Regions from separate parts of the Homo sapiens genome. Here region 1 is reported to be linked to region 2. Evidence: microRNA targets listed by miRTarBase, many of them from high-throughput screens and not tested one by one. Region 2 holds a microRNA gene; the other region holds the end of a gene's coding sequence.

The links. The annotated mature microRNA hsa-miR-532-3p reads CCUCCCACACCCAAGGCUUGCA and lies in region 2 at 5,167-5,188, shown strand. An mRNA with a match to its seed (bases 2 to 7 or 8) in the 3' UTR can be bound and repressed. Matches are read on the target gene's strand: a 7mer-m8 pairs with bases 2 to 8, a 7mer-A1 pairs with bases 2 to 7 and ends in A, and an 8mer does both.
Region 1: the mRNA of NUDT9 is a reported target of hsa-miR-532-3p. Seed matches in the 3' UTR shown: 7mer-m8 at 2,362-2,368 and 7mer-m8 at 2,800-2,806.

What each region holds. Positions count from the first base shown.
Region 1 is chr4:87,456,488-87,464,067 of GRCh38, forward strand. It overlaps NUDT9 (nudix hydrolase 9), which reads left to right. Exons shown (of 8, transcript NM_024047.5): 8 at 1,356-2,968. The coding sequence ends at 1,534. It overlaps SCPPPQ1 (secretory calcium-binding phosphoprotein proline-glutamine rich 1), which reads right to left. Exons shown (of 10, transcript NM_001405228.1): 7 at 6,927-6,956; 8 at 6,777-6,805; 9 at 5,480-5,517; 10 at 4,315-4,496. The coding sequence ends at 6,791. Among named protein-coding and RNA genes, the nearest start is that of SCPPPQ1, 11 kb to the right of the region's middle.
Region 2 is chrX:49,998,038-50,006,365 of GRCh38, forward strand. It overlaps MIR532 (microRNA 532), which reads left to right and starts at 5,111; the gene lies at 5,111-5,201. All of the region lies in intron 3 of CLCN5 (chloride voltage-gated channel 5), which reads left to right. It overlaps MIR188 (microRNA 188), which reads left to right and starts at 5,466; the gene lies at 5,466-5,551.

The DNA.
Region 1 (7,580 bases), not on the chromosome of region 2:
GTTAGAAAGGAGAGAGGATTTTTCTCCAGTCTTCACCTGGTGGCTTTCTTGGAGGTAAAGCTCACTAAAATGTAGGCCCCCTCTTCATACTGGTATGGCTGACCCCCTAGGAGATTTTATCTTTCAAGCTAGTCCAAAGGTCAGCTTTCAGCAGTTAGTTACCCTTTAAGTGTTCCTACCAGGTGCTGACTCCAGCGGTAGGCTTCTCTCCCTGGTCAGTTGTGATTCTCTGTATTTGCCTGTCTCTCCAGTTTTTGGTATGGCAGTGTGGTCTCTACTAAGAATACAAAAAAATTAGCTGGGCGTGGTGGCAGATGCCTGTAATCCCAGGTACTCGGGGGGCTGAGGCAGGAGAATCGCTTGTACTCAGGACGCGGAGGTTGCAGTGAGCCGTGATTGTGCCACTGCACTTCAGCCTGGTCAACAACAGCGAGACTCCATCTAAAAATAAATAAAATAAAATAAAATATTTAAGTAATGTTGCCTTGAATACTTTAATAGGCTTGTCTCTATTTCATCAGAATAAATTCTTCAAAGAGGAATTACTGGATTGCTTATTGTATCTTCAGTGCCTAGTACAGTCTGGCACACAAGATGCACTCTGATATTTACAGAATGAGTGCTTGTCAAAGAAAACTTACTTTTTAAAAGCTCTTGATAAACATTGCCAAATTTCCTACAGAAATATTCCATTTATATTCCCAGCAGTGATTGGGAGCACTTATTTTTTATTTTTTTGATAATTTAAATTTTTTTTTTTTTTTTTTGAGGTGGAGTCTCACCCTGTTGCCAGGCTGGAGTGCAGTGGTGTGATCTTGGCTCACTGCAACCTCCACCTCATGGATTCAGACAATTCTCTTGCCTCAGCCTCCCAAGTAAGCTGGGACTGCAGGCATGTGCCACCACTCCTGGCTAATTTTTGTATTTTTAGTAGAGATGGGGTTTCACCATGTTGGCCAGGCTGGTCTCGAACTCCTGACCTCAGGTGATCTACCCGCCTCAGCTTTGTTTATTTTTTTACATTTAAATCTCTCATCCCTCTTGGACTGATTTTGATGTAAGGTTTCATATTCATGTAATATAATCTCGTTTTTAAGGATAATCTTTTTAGAGAAAACTCTTTGTGTTTATCTAAAATTTAGGGACTTGGTTAAAATTTGGACATTTTGGAATACTCTAGTTTTTTTTCTTTTATTCATTCTGCTGACCAGGGATGGAATGGTCTAGTTTTTAATTCACTTGGCCGGCTAGTACAATGATGATATAAGATTATTTTAAATAAGAATACTTGACGACATAGATATGCTAAAACAGAAATGAGTTTTTCTTGGTGATGGTTTTTCTTTGGCAACCAGGTGAGATAATGGATAATCTTATGCTAGAAGCTGGAGATGATGCTGGAAAAGTGAAATGGGTGGACATCAATGATAAACTGAAGCTTTATGCCAGTCACTCTCAATTCATCAAACTTGTGGCTGAGAAACGAGATGCACACTGGAGCGAGGACTCTGAAGCTGACTGCCATGCGTTGTAGCTGATGGTCTCCGTGTAAGCCAAAGGCCCACAGAGGAGCATATACTGAAAAGAAGGCAGTATCACAGAATTTATACTATAAAAAGGGCAGGGTAGGCCACTTGGCCTATTTACTTTCAAAACAATTTGCATTTAGAGTGTTTCGCATCAGAATAACATGAGTAAGATGAACTGGAACACAAAATTTTCAGCTCTTTGGTCAAAAGGAATATAAGTAATCATATTTTGTATGTATTCGATTTAAGCATGGCTTAAATTAAATTTAAACAACTAATGCTCTTTGAAGAATCATAATCAGAATAAAGATAAATTCTTGATCAGCTATAACTTCTGTTTCATCTAGTTCTTGTTTGTCAATGCCTTCCCTCCCGCTCCCCATCTTCTGAGGCCTGAAGGATGTTCCTGCCACATCAAACTCCTTTAGGCAGAGTACCGCCACTGGATGTATAGTTTAATGTTTCATCTGATTTTTCTTTAAATTATTTCCTTCACATTTTGCTTCACATGATCTTGTTGAAGCTAATTTTGAAAATGGAAACTATGTTTTCTTGACTTTAGAAGCATTAGTTTTAAGAGGAAATTTCAGCCACTAGTCAATAGAGATCAAAATCAGTGAACAAGAGCTGATACTCTCATTTTCAAAAATTCTGAATTAAAAAAAGTCCAGGAAGTTAGTAATTTAAATCAGTATGTTCATTTCACTCTAGTGAAACTACTATATGTTGTAAATTAGTTAAAAATGGATGTTCAGAAAAGAATTGAAATCAGGACAAAAAATTACAGATGCTAGTGAGGTTGTAGAGAAAAAGGAATGCTTATACGCTGTTAGTGGGAGTGTAAATTGGTCCAACCATTGTGGAAGAGAGTGTAGAGAGTCCTCAAATATTTAAAGATATTTGACCCAGTAATCCCATTACTAGGTATATACCCGAAGGAATATAAATTGTTCTATTATAAACACATACTCACGTGTATGTTCATTGCTGCACTATTCACAATAGCGAAGACATGAAATCAACCTAAATGTTCATCAGTGATAGACTGGATAAAGACAATGTGGTATATGTACACCATGGAATACTATGCAGCCGTAAAAAAGAATAAGATCATGTCCTCTGAAAAGACATGGGTGGAGCTGGAGGCCATTATCCTTAGCAAACTAATGCAAGAACAGAAAACCAAACACTGCATGTTCTCTTATAAGTGAGAGCTAAATGGTGAGAACACATGGACATGGGAACAACACATTCTGGGGTCTATTGGAGGGTGGGAGGAGGGAGAGGATCAGGAAAAATAACTAATGAGTACTAGGCTTAATACCTTGGTGATGAAATTATCTGTACAACAAACCCTCATGACACAAGTTTACCTATGTAACAAACCTGCACATGTACCCCTGTACTTAACAACAAAATAAACACAAAGGAAAATGTTAGCCATGTGTGAATTTTAAACTTCTTGGTAGTCACATTAAAAATAAAAAGAAACAAGTAAAATGGTTTGTAATTATTTAATCCATTATATCCAAAATATCTTAATATGTGATCAATATATAATTATTAAGTAATTATTTTGGTTCTATAAAAACAGGAACAGAGGTGGAGGTCTCTGTGAGTTAGTGTTTTTTTGTTAGGAAAGAAATGTTAAAGATTGAAATAGATTTTTGAGAAAAGCATGGTTAATGTTATAAATCCCAGAGGAAAGGAGGGGGTTGGTGCTTTGGGGGTTTTTGGAAGCAAGGAAAAGGAAAGAAAAGTAGTACTGCCTTGTCTTAGTGGACATGTTTATCTCATTCTGGCTAAGGATCTCTGTTGGAAAGCCCTGTGATAGGAACTCCTATCCACCTAAGTAGGGTTGGGCTATAGCTGGAGCATCTCAGGAAAAGCTTTAGGGGAGACAGACATTATTGTTTTCTTTCCTTCAGATGTTTGAAAAAGATTAGGCTTCTGTAGCTAGAGAGCAGAATTACGGTTAAGGTAAAACAAAGTGTTGTTCTGTTTTTTGTTTCGTTTATTTGATGTCAGAAATTTTGGTGGTAAACCTGAATTGAACTGACAGGAGGCTTTTTTCCCCTTAGTTACGACTGTAGATTTTCCTGAAAAGCATTAGAATGTTTGATTTCAGGATACCTTGAACCCTTCTGGAGTAGTTATAAATAGGGCTTATGTATGTATTAACTTCTAAAAATCCATAAAATCCTGGTCCCTACGGTGAGTAATAAGGGATTGATACTTGATGAGGATGACCTGCTCAAGAGGTTAGATGGCCTTCCTGCATGGAAGAGTTGGCTTCTACTTTCACCATTTGGCAGGAAGAAATTGCTTCTTCCTATCACTGAATGGAGTTCTCCAAAATTGAAGCTACTTGTTTACAAAAGCTCTTTTAACAGTTTGAGCAATTTTCTGAAAATTTTGGCCTTTACTTGTGTGTCATAGTATTTTGAGACAGGGTCTCATTCTGTTGCCCGTGATAGCACCACTGGAGTGCAATGGTGCTCTTATGGCTCACTGCAGCCTCAACCTCCTGGGCTCAAGCAATCCTCCCACCTCAGCCTCCTAATTAGTTGGGACCACATGTGTGCACCACCACACCCAGCTAATTTTTTTATTTTTTTTTTGTGGAGACTGGAATTTCCCTATGTTGCCCAGGCTGGTCTTGGACTCCTGGGCTCAAGAGATCCTCCCACCCCAGCCTCCCAAAGTGTTGGGATTACAGGTGTGAGCCACCATGCCCAGCCTGTTTAATAGTTTTGATACATTTGAACTGCCATTAATAAAGACATTTGGTTATATTAAAGGTTTATTTAAAGTATGACTAAAGCCCATGGTCTAGATACATTCTTTATGGTTTTTTGGAGTTTTCACTGGAACATGCACAAAGTATGCAAAATTATAAAACTACCATCAACTATAGTTAAGATAGAAGTAGATACTCTTCTGATAACTGTAAATATCCAGCACCATCTATAATAGGGAAAAAACAAAATGTTAGTTTCAGATATTCCTAGAGGAAGATCTATCTGCTATATCACTAGGTAATATTCCCTTCATACTTATTTTCCTTATGTCTTATGTAAAATGAATGTTTTTTATTTTAGAGACATTTAGTAAAATAAGTAATAATATTTGCCATTTACTGAGTATCTATTATATTTCTTAATTCTATCCACATCCTGTTAGGTAGTAGTATTCCCATTTCACAAATGAATACATTGATATTTAGAAAGGTTGCCCGCAGTTTTATTTGCTAGTAGAGTTGGGATTTGAATCATGGTCTGACTGGGTTGCAAAGCTATTCTGTCTGTTGTATTCCCTACTAAGGTTAAGAGTCTTTTATGATACATTATTTAAGTATGCAGCTTGGAAGATTATGTGTAACATAAGTAGTACTCATGTTATTCATAGTATTGCAGTTATGATTTGTGAGTTGAAATTTAAGGGCCACACCTGATTTGGCTAGCATTGTTGAAGTTGTTTGTGTAATTTTGGCCCAAAGATAGTTTATTTGATGATAACCTAAGGATAAAGGGCCACAGTCAGTGTTTGTTTTGTCAGCAGGTGTTCTTGAGCTTTTGAAAGCATTTCAAACTCAAATAGAAGGATATGCAAAGTTTCCTTAGGATCATAACTACTTTAAATATTTGGTGGCTAAAGGGGGAACTTGAAAATTCTGAGCACTTCGAGAGGCTATTCTTATTTAACAGTATGTTTTCTTATGCTTAGGACTTCTGGTGGTGGTTATTTTCTAAAATATTTCTGGAGTTTTAATAAACTGACTTTAAAATACATCCTTTGAAGAAAGCATTTGTAATTAATTGGTCTTGTTTACACCTATTTTCATCATATTATTAATTTACCGTTGTGGACACAATCAGAGGCAATTAAACTCATGATAAAAATATTGAAAAGGATATAAATGCATGAAAGAATTTGGAGATTTTACTAACCATACGTAACTTCTGGCATAGTAGTGGGAGAATTATTTCTGTCAAAATAGATAATACAGATTATAGTTATAATTTATATGAAGATATTTTCACCACAATTCCTTCTTCACCCATGCCTCCCATTTTATGGTTATTTTATTGCTGATGTGTTAATATTGGTATAATCATGTATGTTGGAGGTGGAAAATAATGTGGAACTGTTAAATGCTGATAAATTGAATCCTTAACTGTTTACAGCATAGAGCTTAATCTCTCCCACTTGGCCTCAGATAGTCTAAGTATTTGAAATGGTAAAAGGTACTAAATAAGCACTTCAGGGCAATGTAACTTGTTAGGAGAGAAGCAGTTGGGTGGAAATCCAGTTTCTTTCTCCAAGGCTGTAGTACATACACTATGATTGGGCCCGTGAATAGCCTCTGTAGTCCAGCCAGGACAACATAGCAAGATCCTGTTTCTTAAAAATATTAGAACAACAAAAGGGATATATACCTTTTTGGTCTCCACGTTTTTCTTTCTTTCTTTCTTTCTTTCTTTCTTTTTTTTGGTATGTATTTTACATGAAAGCAAACTTCAGTGAAAGTCAAAGTAGAAGTCAAAGTTTGTAGCCTTTGTATCCAGCAAGTTAATGCTTTTTGTTAAGATGTGTTACCTTGCCTTGAGATCAGTCCATTTCTAGGTGTGGCAGTTTTACAGTAGGCTTTTCTCATTATTTACTATGAATTGCCTATAAGACAAAAATAAGCCTGAAAGCCTGGGCACAGTGGCTCACGCCTGTAATCCCAGCACTTAGGGAGGCTGAAGCGGGTGGATCTCTTGAGGTCAGGAGTTTGAGACCAGCCTGGCTAATGTGGTGAAACCCCGTCTCTACTAAAAATGTAAAAATTAGCCAGGTGTGGTGGCACATGCTTGTAATACCAGCTACTAGGAAGGCTGAGGCAGGAGAATCGCTTGAGCCTGGGGGGGCAGAGGTTGCAGTGAGCCGAGATCACGCCACTGCACTCCAGCCTGGGTGACAGAGCAAGACTCCTCAAAAAAAAAAAAAAAAAAGCCTGAAGCAAACTTTGTTGTTTGAAATTTCATATTGCATATATGCCTGTAAATTTAAATTTTGTGAAATATCAAGGACATTATTAAAAAATACCTTTTTAGACTGGCAAAAATTTTGATGTAAAGATTTTGGAGGAAATGAGTTTATAACTTATGAGTTCTAGTTTGGTAGATCAGTTGAGGTTGACTCTCATATTTTTATAGTTACAAAGAGTTTCTCTTACCTTTCGTGGCATTGAATATAACTTACCTTTATCAATTTAGTCATGGAAATAAAATCTTACCCCAGAGAAGTTCCAAAAGTTAAAAAAAAAAACAACAAAAAAAAATTTAGTAAGATGTTATCTTTAGTCTATTAAGTAAATGTGTAGTTTATTATAGCATAAAAATAGAGCCTTACCCCTAGTTGGTTCAAAATAGCAATGAGTAACTGTGAAGGAAGAAAAATTGATGATCAGTGCTGTCAATAGGTTAATTTTTAAACCTACATTTAACTTATTACATATGCAAGTTAGTATACTTTGTATACAAAAATCTATTTTATTGAAAAATTCCATTTTATTGCTTAGTATATTATTTATATGATACAAGATTTTAAAATGACAATATCTGGATTTAAATACCTTTAATTCACAGAAATATTTTCTTTCTACAGCTTTGTAATGATATTTACCATATTTGAAAGTTAGAAAATTGATTTGAATGGTTAAGAAACCCTCTGTGTACACTTCCATACAAGTCCCATCTTTCATAAATGATTCAGATTCCCTGTGTGAATGATACTTGAACTAAAATTTTAGGACAACTATGAATACTTTGTTTTGAGAACTTGCTTATACAAGCAGTTTTACTGGAAAATTGTTTTGTAGCATCCACATGGTCCTGTTTTAAGATTCTGGCAGCTTGCTCAAGAAATTGACCAACTCCGTCTAAAAGGTGAATCTCTTTACTTGTTGAGCTGTCTGTCTTAGAGTGTATGCAGTAATATTTAAGCTAAACACTGTCCCAACTGTGACAGATCTTAGGCACGAACAATGCCCTCAGGTAGCGTTTG
Region 2 (8,328 bases):
CCTGTTGCTGATGCTAACAAAGATAGTTAACATTTGGCACTGGCAGTGTCCAGACACTGAGCTCAGCACTGGTCATAGTGTCCTGGTTAATCCTTGCAACAACCCTAAGAATCAGGGACTCCCGCCCTCCCCATTTTACAGATGATGAAATGCAGGCATAGGGAGATTAGGCACAGCTGTTAATGGCAGAACCAGGCATTCCAAAGCTGAGACTATACTGTACTGCTCAAACGACACAGGTGTAGAAGGTGTATGGCAGCCTGAGCCCCATTTCCTGTTTGCATATTCCTGCTCATACATGCACAGGAATATATACTTAATGGGGTACGGTCACTGGACCCTTCTCACTTACTCTCTCACCACCCCCTCTGCTCCTGCCATTTTGTGGGCACCCACATAGACGTAGTGCTGCAAAGTGAGCCTCCTTTTGAGCAGATCCACACAAAATGTGCAGATAAACAAGCCTTCTACCTCAGGCCTGCAGCACGCCTGCTTTCTGACCTGCTTGGTACGTTTCGGGCCCAAAGTGTCAGAGTGTGGATTTTCACAATCCCCCTCCCACATTTTAAGTTTGCAGGCAAATGAACCTTAATGTGCCTTCTCTACTTCCCTCCCTCCCTCCTTCCCTCTCACACTCAGAGTGCCAGAAAGAAGAACCTGCTGACTCCACCACTCGTCTATATGTCTTGACTGTAGGAGAGAGAGCTTTCCTGATCCCATTCCTATTTGTGGAGTCTGTGGGAGAGCAAGCCATCTTGCCTTCTTGTTATTTCTCTCCTTCACCCATGCATGACACTGCAAAGGGTTTGCTGGCTTGAGTCTTCTACACACACACACACAGTCTGAGACATCTGATGTGTTCACCCTCCCATTTGCCTTGAATGGTAGTGTGTGTGTTTTTTAATTCCACTCTTATATACACAACTTACAGGAGAGTGAATTTTCTAGTGCCACCCCCCCGCCATAGGCTATGTGCCCCCTTGCTTTTTTTCACCCAGCATCCAGAGTCGAGATTGTTTAGTGCCCTTCTTACAGGCCTTGTTGGCAAGAGTGAGCATTATTATGGGACACCCTCCCCACCCCCGACACAGATGATGCACACAGGAGTACAAGATGATGAGGCTCCTGATCACCCCACGCCTCCTTAGACCTACGTCTGTGTACATCCTCTGTCTGTGAGGGAGAGAGGAGGTGACTCCTTACCTGTTTGTCTCACATGCCTCACACATTGGGGTGTGAGCTGTCTCAGTTCCCTCCCACACATGAGGTTTACAGATGTGCAAGCTTTCTGAGCTGTGCCCTGCCTCTTAAACCCAGCATGCCTTCTTAGTGCTCTTCCCACAAGCATGCATTATTGGAGAGTGGACTTTGCTTTTTTTTTTTTTTTTTAACTTGCTGAGTTGAAGTATTTGAAGGATAGTGGGCCTAAAAAAACTGGCTCTGGCACAGGCACATGTGCCTTCACATGTGTACACACATGTACACCACGAGGGAGATGAATCCTTCGGCCTGTTAGTGTTTGCTTTGTATGGTAGATGTGTTGAGGAATAAAAAAAATAATCTGCCCCTTTTAGCTGAGGGGAAAAATAAGTTCAGAAATGGCAGTTGATCCATTAAGGATGGTGGGCAGTTTCTAAGCTATACTCTGTTGGCCAGCAAGTTTAAAGACTAAAGAAAAAGTGTCAGTGTGAACACATATTTGGCTCTTTTCACTATAGTTGGTGTTGTCAAGCAGCTGATACCTGCGGAATAGAATATGAGAATTGTGCTACAACGAATACATTTGCTTTCTTAGTCTGTACATTAAAAGCCCCTTTTTTTACTTGTTTTAAAGGTTGTGGAGCATTGTTTGAATGACAGTTATTTACATTGTAAAAATAGTATGAAATTTATGATATTTTAAAAATTTGCTAGGATTCATCAGTGAGCATTCTTCCTATATCTGCCCTGTCTCTGCTCTCCACTCCCCCAGCTCTCCTGCCCCATGCAGGGGTGCAAGCCTCTCAAGCTATCCCATCCCACCTTGACCACACAGAACTACAGTGAGCTTTTTATTTTAAATATGCTTCCCCAAACCTGTTGGACTGTGGGTTTCCCCATCCGCCTCCTGCTTGCAGCCTCTCTCTCTAATCCTGCTTTTCTCTTTCTTTCTCTCATGTGCATACACTCATGATATGCATGTAAGGGAGACACCTGAGTTGCCCCATTGCATCCAGCATCGCAGGACTGTGAGCCTTCTATTGCTGCCACTCTCCTACCCCACGCATGGCTTAACCTAAAATAAAACTGACCTCCCAATTGGGAGGTTATTACAACCTCCCAATGCACACACTGGCTGGGCCACAGTGGCGTGTGAACCACTGTGTCAGCCACCTTATTACCCCTTTTCTGTGCATGCCCCCACACACATTTATGATAGGAGCTTGAGCCTCCTTATTCTCCATCCTTGCTCTTTCTCTCTTCCTTTTCCTCCCTCATCTCACATGTGTGTGCCAAGGATGTGCCAGAAAGTGGGTCCTTATCATTTTCAGTTCTCATACACATGTGGGTACACACAGCTTTAGGGTTCAGTGGTTAGGCCCACTGTCTTGGTAGTCAGATTACCTGTGGTAGAATCCTGGCGTGATCTGTAATGAGCTTTGTGATCCTAGACAAGTGACTTATCTTGTGTCTCAATTTCCACAACATGAAAATGAGATAACTAATTGTGCCAACCATATAGGTTTGTAATAAGCACTGAAGGAGGCGACGCATGTATTGGGATTAACATGTAATAAACTTCCTTAATCCATATGCTTTGCCTGGAGCAACTGATTCTCCATAGAAGAAAACTCACACCTAAGCTGCTTGGTCCCATTATTTGAAAATGTTTGGGAAGTACTGCCTTGGATGACTGTTTCATAATTCTTTCCTTTCCTCAAATCTGCAGTGTCACCTCCCTTCCTTCCTCCTCACTCTCAGCTGCTGACTTTGCTTTCTTCTTCCTTGAGAAAATGGAAGCCATCAGAAGGGACCCTCTGAAGTTCCTCTGACCTCTCCTCCATTACCTGCACATGTCCCTAAGTGTCAGCTCCTCCCCATTATGGTAGATGAATTACTGGCACATGTAGCCAGGACCAGTTCCTCCACTTGTATACTAGATTTCAACCCCTGTCACCTATTCAGTGACAGTGCTCCTGCAATTGATCCCCCTCTCCTTACTGCATCATCAACTGTTCTTTGTATACTGGAGTGTTTGTACCAATATCTAGATGTGCTGCCACATATCCTGTCTAAAAATAATTTTAAAAATTAAAAAGCACTACCTTCTCTACCCAAAAAGCTCCTCCAGTTTCTACTCATTTCTCTGTTCCTCTTTACAGAAAAAAAAAAAATTTTTTTGAAGGAGCTGATTGTACTCCATCTCTACTTCTATTTCTCCCATTTACTCTTTTTTTTAAATGTATACTTTAAGTTCTAGGGTACATGTGCACAACATGCAGGTTTGTTACATATGCATACATGTGCCATGTTGGTGTGCTGCACCCGTTAACTTGTCATTTACATTAGGTATATCTCCTAATGCTATCCCTCCCCCCTCCCCCCACCCCATGACAGGCCCCGATGTGTGATGTTCCCCTTCCTGTGTCCAAGTGTTCTCATTGTTCAATTCCCACCTATGAGTGAGAACATGTGGTGTTTGGTTTTCTGTCCTTGGATCCCTTCCTTACACCTTATACAAAAATTAATTCAAGATGGATTAAAGACTTAAATGTTAGTCCCATTTACTCTTGAAAACCCTCCATGTAAAACTGTAACCTGCAGCACTTAAATGACCCTGGTCAAGGTCCCCAGTGTCCTTCACATTTCCCAATTTACTGGGCAATGTTGTCATCTTACTTGACAGATCAACACACAGTTGATCACTCCCTCTGCCTTGAGACTCTACCTGCTTTCCAGGATTCCACACTCATGAGGTTGTCTTCTTACCTCACAAGCCTCTCTTTCTCAGTCTCTTGATGGTTTCTCCTCCTCTTCCTGAATTCTAAGTATTAAAGAGATATAGGGCTTAGTCTTCAGACTTCTTTTTTTTTTTTTAACTTCTCATTAGTCCTCAGCTGTTCTCATCTTGTCTTGCAACTCTAAGTACCATTTTATGTGGATGATTTCTGTGTTTGTATTTCCAGCCTGGACTTCTCTCCTGAATTCCAGATGCCTATGTCCAACTATGTACTGGACATCTGCCCCGAATGTCTAATAAGTATCTCAAAACTTTAACACATCCAAAGCTGAGGTCCTGGTTTTCCTCCCCCTCTCAAAAAGCCCTACTCCTCCCTCTGTGTTCTCCAACTCAGCAAACAGCATTTCCCAATTGCATATGCCAAGGATATGGAGAATTTTAATAAGCTAAAGGTTTTGGATTCATCTTTGACACTTTTTCCCCTCCATTCTCCAAATACAAACTGCTGTCAAATCTTGTTGGCTCTACTTTCAAAATACATGTCTAATCTGACCACACAGCCACTTCTCATACTTCTCACTTCCTCTATTATTTCCACACTAATCCAGCTTTTCCCTGGGCTGACAAGTGCAAGTTCTCTTGCGTCTGTCTGTCTGTCTGTCTCTCTGTCTCTGTCTCTGTCTCTGTCTCTCTCTCTCTCTCTCTGTGTGTGTGTGTGTGTGTGTGTGTGTGTGTGTGTGGTGTGTGTGTGGACACAAAGTGGTTGGTGGCTGAGAGCTTGAGCCTCCTTTTTTGAGTCCTCTTTCTAATGACCTGCATGCCAGATTCTAAGCTTTCTTACCATCTGTTCTCGTATGTGTGTTATTTCATCTGTAAAATAGGGATAATGATCACCTCATGGATATTTTATGAGAATAAATGAGCTATGTGTGAAAAGCACTTAAAACAGTGCTCTGCAAATGTAAATACTATACTGGTGTTAGGAATAAAAATAAAGGAAAAGAAAGAAGGAAGGAAAACAAATATGTTGTAGATAGTGAACATTTCTGAAGGTACATATGTGAATGTACACAAGCACACCTTCTCATTACAGCATGTCTGGGGCACAGTCATAGAAGTCCAAGGCATCTGGGATACGCATGCACACAGTATACAGGAGAGCAGACCTCCCGACTTGCTTTCTCTCCTCCATGCCTTGAGTGTAGGACCGTTGGCATCTTAATTACCCTCCCACACCCAAGGCTTGCAGAAGAGCGAGCCTTCTCTTCCCTCTCCAGTGCATAGGCATGAGCACATGGACAGGTACACCAAAGGGAGGTAGACCCTCTCTTACGTGCTCTGTATGTGGGGTACACTGTTAGCAGCCATCCCATCTGGATGACTGTCCTGCTTCCATGGCCACTGCTCCTAGTTTACCCATCAGCACTCCTGTGGCTATCTTGCTGCCCACTTGCACCCCCCAGGCCAGTGCCTCTTGCCTCCTAGAGCATACCCATATGTCGTGCCAAGAGAGCAAGCCCTTCCCTGCTCCCTCTCTCACATCCCTTGCATGGTGGAGGGTGAGCTTTCTGAAAACCCCTCCCACATGCAGGGTTTGCAGGATGGCGAGCCTCAGCTTTCCTTGCTCTCTTGTGCATGTGTATATACACATACGCACTCCTTCACCAAAAGAAAAACACACACCCATGTGGTGGGAAGGAGAATGACTCTCAGCCATGTCCTTTCTCCCATCTCAGTCTTACATGGATCCTGCAGGAGAGGGAGACTTCTCTTAGCTTTCTCTTGCACATGGTGCAGCCCCTCATACTCAGGGATAGGCACAGCCTAGAGAAGGAAGGGGGGTCTTTTGACCTGGTTCTGTCTTAGCGGCACCTAGAGGAGGAGAGAGAACCTTCTCAGGACTCCTGTACATGGGGCATGATGAAAAGGGAGTCTTCTAGCTAATTCTCACAAACCCAGTTTGTGAGGAAAATTGTGTCTATATCATAACCATATGCAAAGATGTAATATGCACACACATTTTGGGTTCAGAAAGTAGAATCCACTCACTGTGCCATGCCTTTCCATATGCACACTTGTTTGCTCAAGAGGGTGTGTGAAGATCTGTCTTCTTAGACACTCATGTAGATATGAGTCAGATTGTGAGTTTTCTCTGTTATCTCCCCAGACCCAGGATTTGCAGCCGATTCATTTGGTGAGCCACTCATTCATTCAGCAAATATTTATCGAGCAGCTACTGTGTGTTGGGTACTCCCCTATGCACCAGGGATACACCAGTGACCAAAAGACAAGAATCCCTGCCCTAGTGAGGGGAGGCAGGTAGTGAACAAAATAAGTAAGTAATAGATAGTGTGCCAATTGTTGATAAGTGCTCTGGAGAATAATAAGGCAGGAAAAGGGGACAAGGAGTGGGTGGGGGTAGTTACAGCATAGATGGTGGTGGAGAAGTTTCGATATCAAATAGGGTAGTCAGGAAAGGCCTACTGTGTTCTAGGAACAACAAAGAGCCATTGTGGCAGAAGCATAGGGCTGGGAAGTAGTAAGTTACAATGGAAAAAGGGAAAGCTGATAATTACTATGTATCTCTAAAATCTAAGGCCGCTTTTAAAAAAAAAATCATACCATTATCACACTTAAAAATAATTACCATCCAGGCACAGGGGCTCATGCCTGTAATCTCAGCACTTTGTGGGAGGCTAAGGTAGGCAGATCACCTGAGGTTAGGAATTCAAGACCAGCCTGGCCAACATGGTGAAACCCCGTCTCTACTAAAAATACAAAAATTAGTCAGGCCTGGTGGCAGGTGCCTGTAATCCCAGCTACTCGGGAGGCTGAGGCAGGAGAATCGCTTGAACCCGGGAGGCGGAGGTTGCAGTGAGCCAAGATCGTGCCACTGCGCTCCAGCCTGGGTGACAAGAGCGAGGCTTCATCTCAAAAAGAAAAAAAATTGCCAACAATTTTTTAATATCATCACATATCTGTTGTTCCCATTTCCACTTGTCTCAGAAATATCATAAATTAGGATCCAGATAAGGTCCATGCATTGCATTTGGTTGATATGTATCTTAAGTCCCTTTGAATTATATCTTTCCCTTCCATCTATATTTTTTCTTTCCTTATAATTTATTTGTTGGAAGAAAGTGGGCCATTCATCCTATACAGTTTTGCATAGTCTGGATTTTTGTGATCACATCCCTGTGATGTAGTTTACATGTTCCTTCTCCTTGTTTGTATTTCCTGTAAACTGATAGTTGCATCTGGAAGCCTGATCAAATTCAGGCTTAATTTTGAGGAAGGGGGAGCAGAACTACTTCCATTAAGAGGCACAAAATAACTGATGATCATCTTTCTGTGATGTTAGTTGCCACCGATGCTCAATTCTTAGAGCCGTTATTTCATTAGGGGTTGCAAAATGATGATATTCTAATCCCATTATTCTCTTGATTTATTAGCTGGAATACTTCTATAAAGAAAAACTTCCCTTCATCTGCTATTTGATCACCCAGTGTTGCCGTCTTTATAGGCAAGATAGGATAAATGTTTGGTTCTCTTTATTTATCAGTACTCAGAATAATGAGTTGGTTCACTAGCTTACTCTAAAGAGGATTTTTTAAAAAAACTATTATAATAAACTCATAGATTTAAATATATTTGGACTTTTAATCCATTGCAGTTCTTGCCTTCAGTGAAGCTCCAGTGCCCCATCTTTAGCCAGTAGGAGCTTCTTCAAATTGGTTCCTCAGTCCTTTTGACATGCCTCCGTAGTTATCTGATAGCTTCTCCGCTTTCAGAGATGAAAAAAATGTACAAAGCTCATCGCAGATACCTTCCCCAGGCCTGGAATCTGCCATGTCTTCAAGAAGCCCTGGTTTCTTTTAATCAGACATGATATTTAAAGACCATATTTGCCTCTGGATTGGTCATTGTATTTAGGCTTCTACAATGATCAGAACAGAAAAATGTTTTGTTTTTGTGTTTTCTTGTTTCTAGATAAATACATCATGATTCCATTATACTTCTGATTCAAAATCAGGATTACAGTTTTCTGTGTCTTTGCTTCACAAGTATGGTTCTGACTGTTGTATGGCAAATAGGAGGAGAAAGTGCAGAAACTGGGAGACCAGTTAGGAGGCCATTGAAATAATTCAGTTGAGAGATGGATGGAGGCCTACATCAGGGTGATCGTGGTGAAGGTAGTAAAAAGTGGTTATATTTTAAAGTTACAGCCAGTTGAGTTTACTGATACATTGCATGTGAAGTGTGAGAGAAAGAGGAGTAGGAGACTGAGCCCTCTCTTCCCTCTTTGTCACATATGAGTTGGGTACATATGCTGACACTGCCTCTTTAATCTGTAGCATCCGCATGCAAGTGCTGTCCCAGTGCAGTAC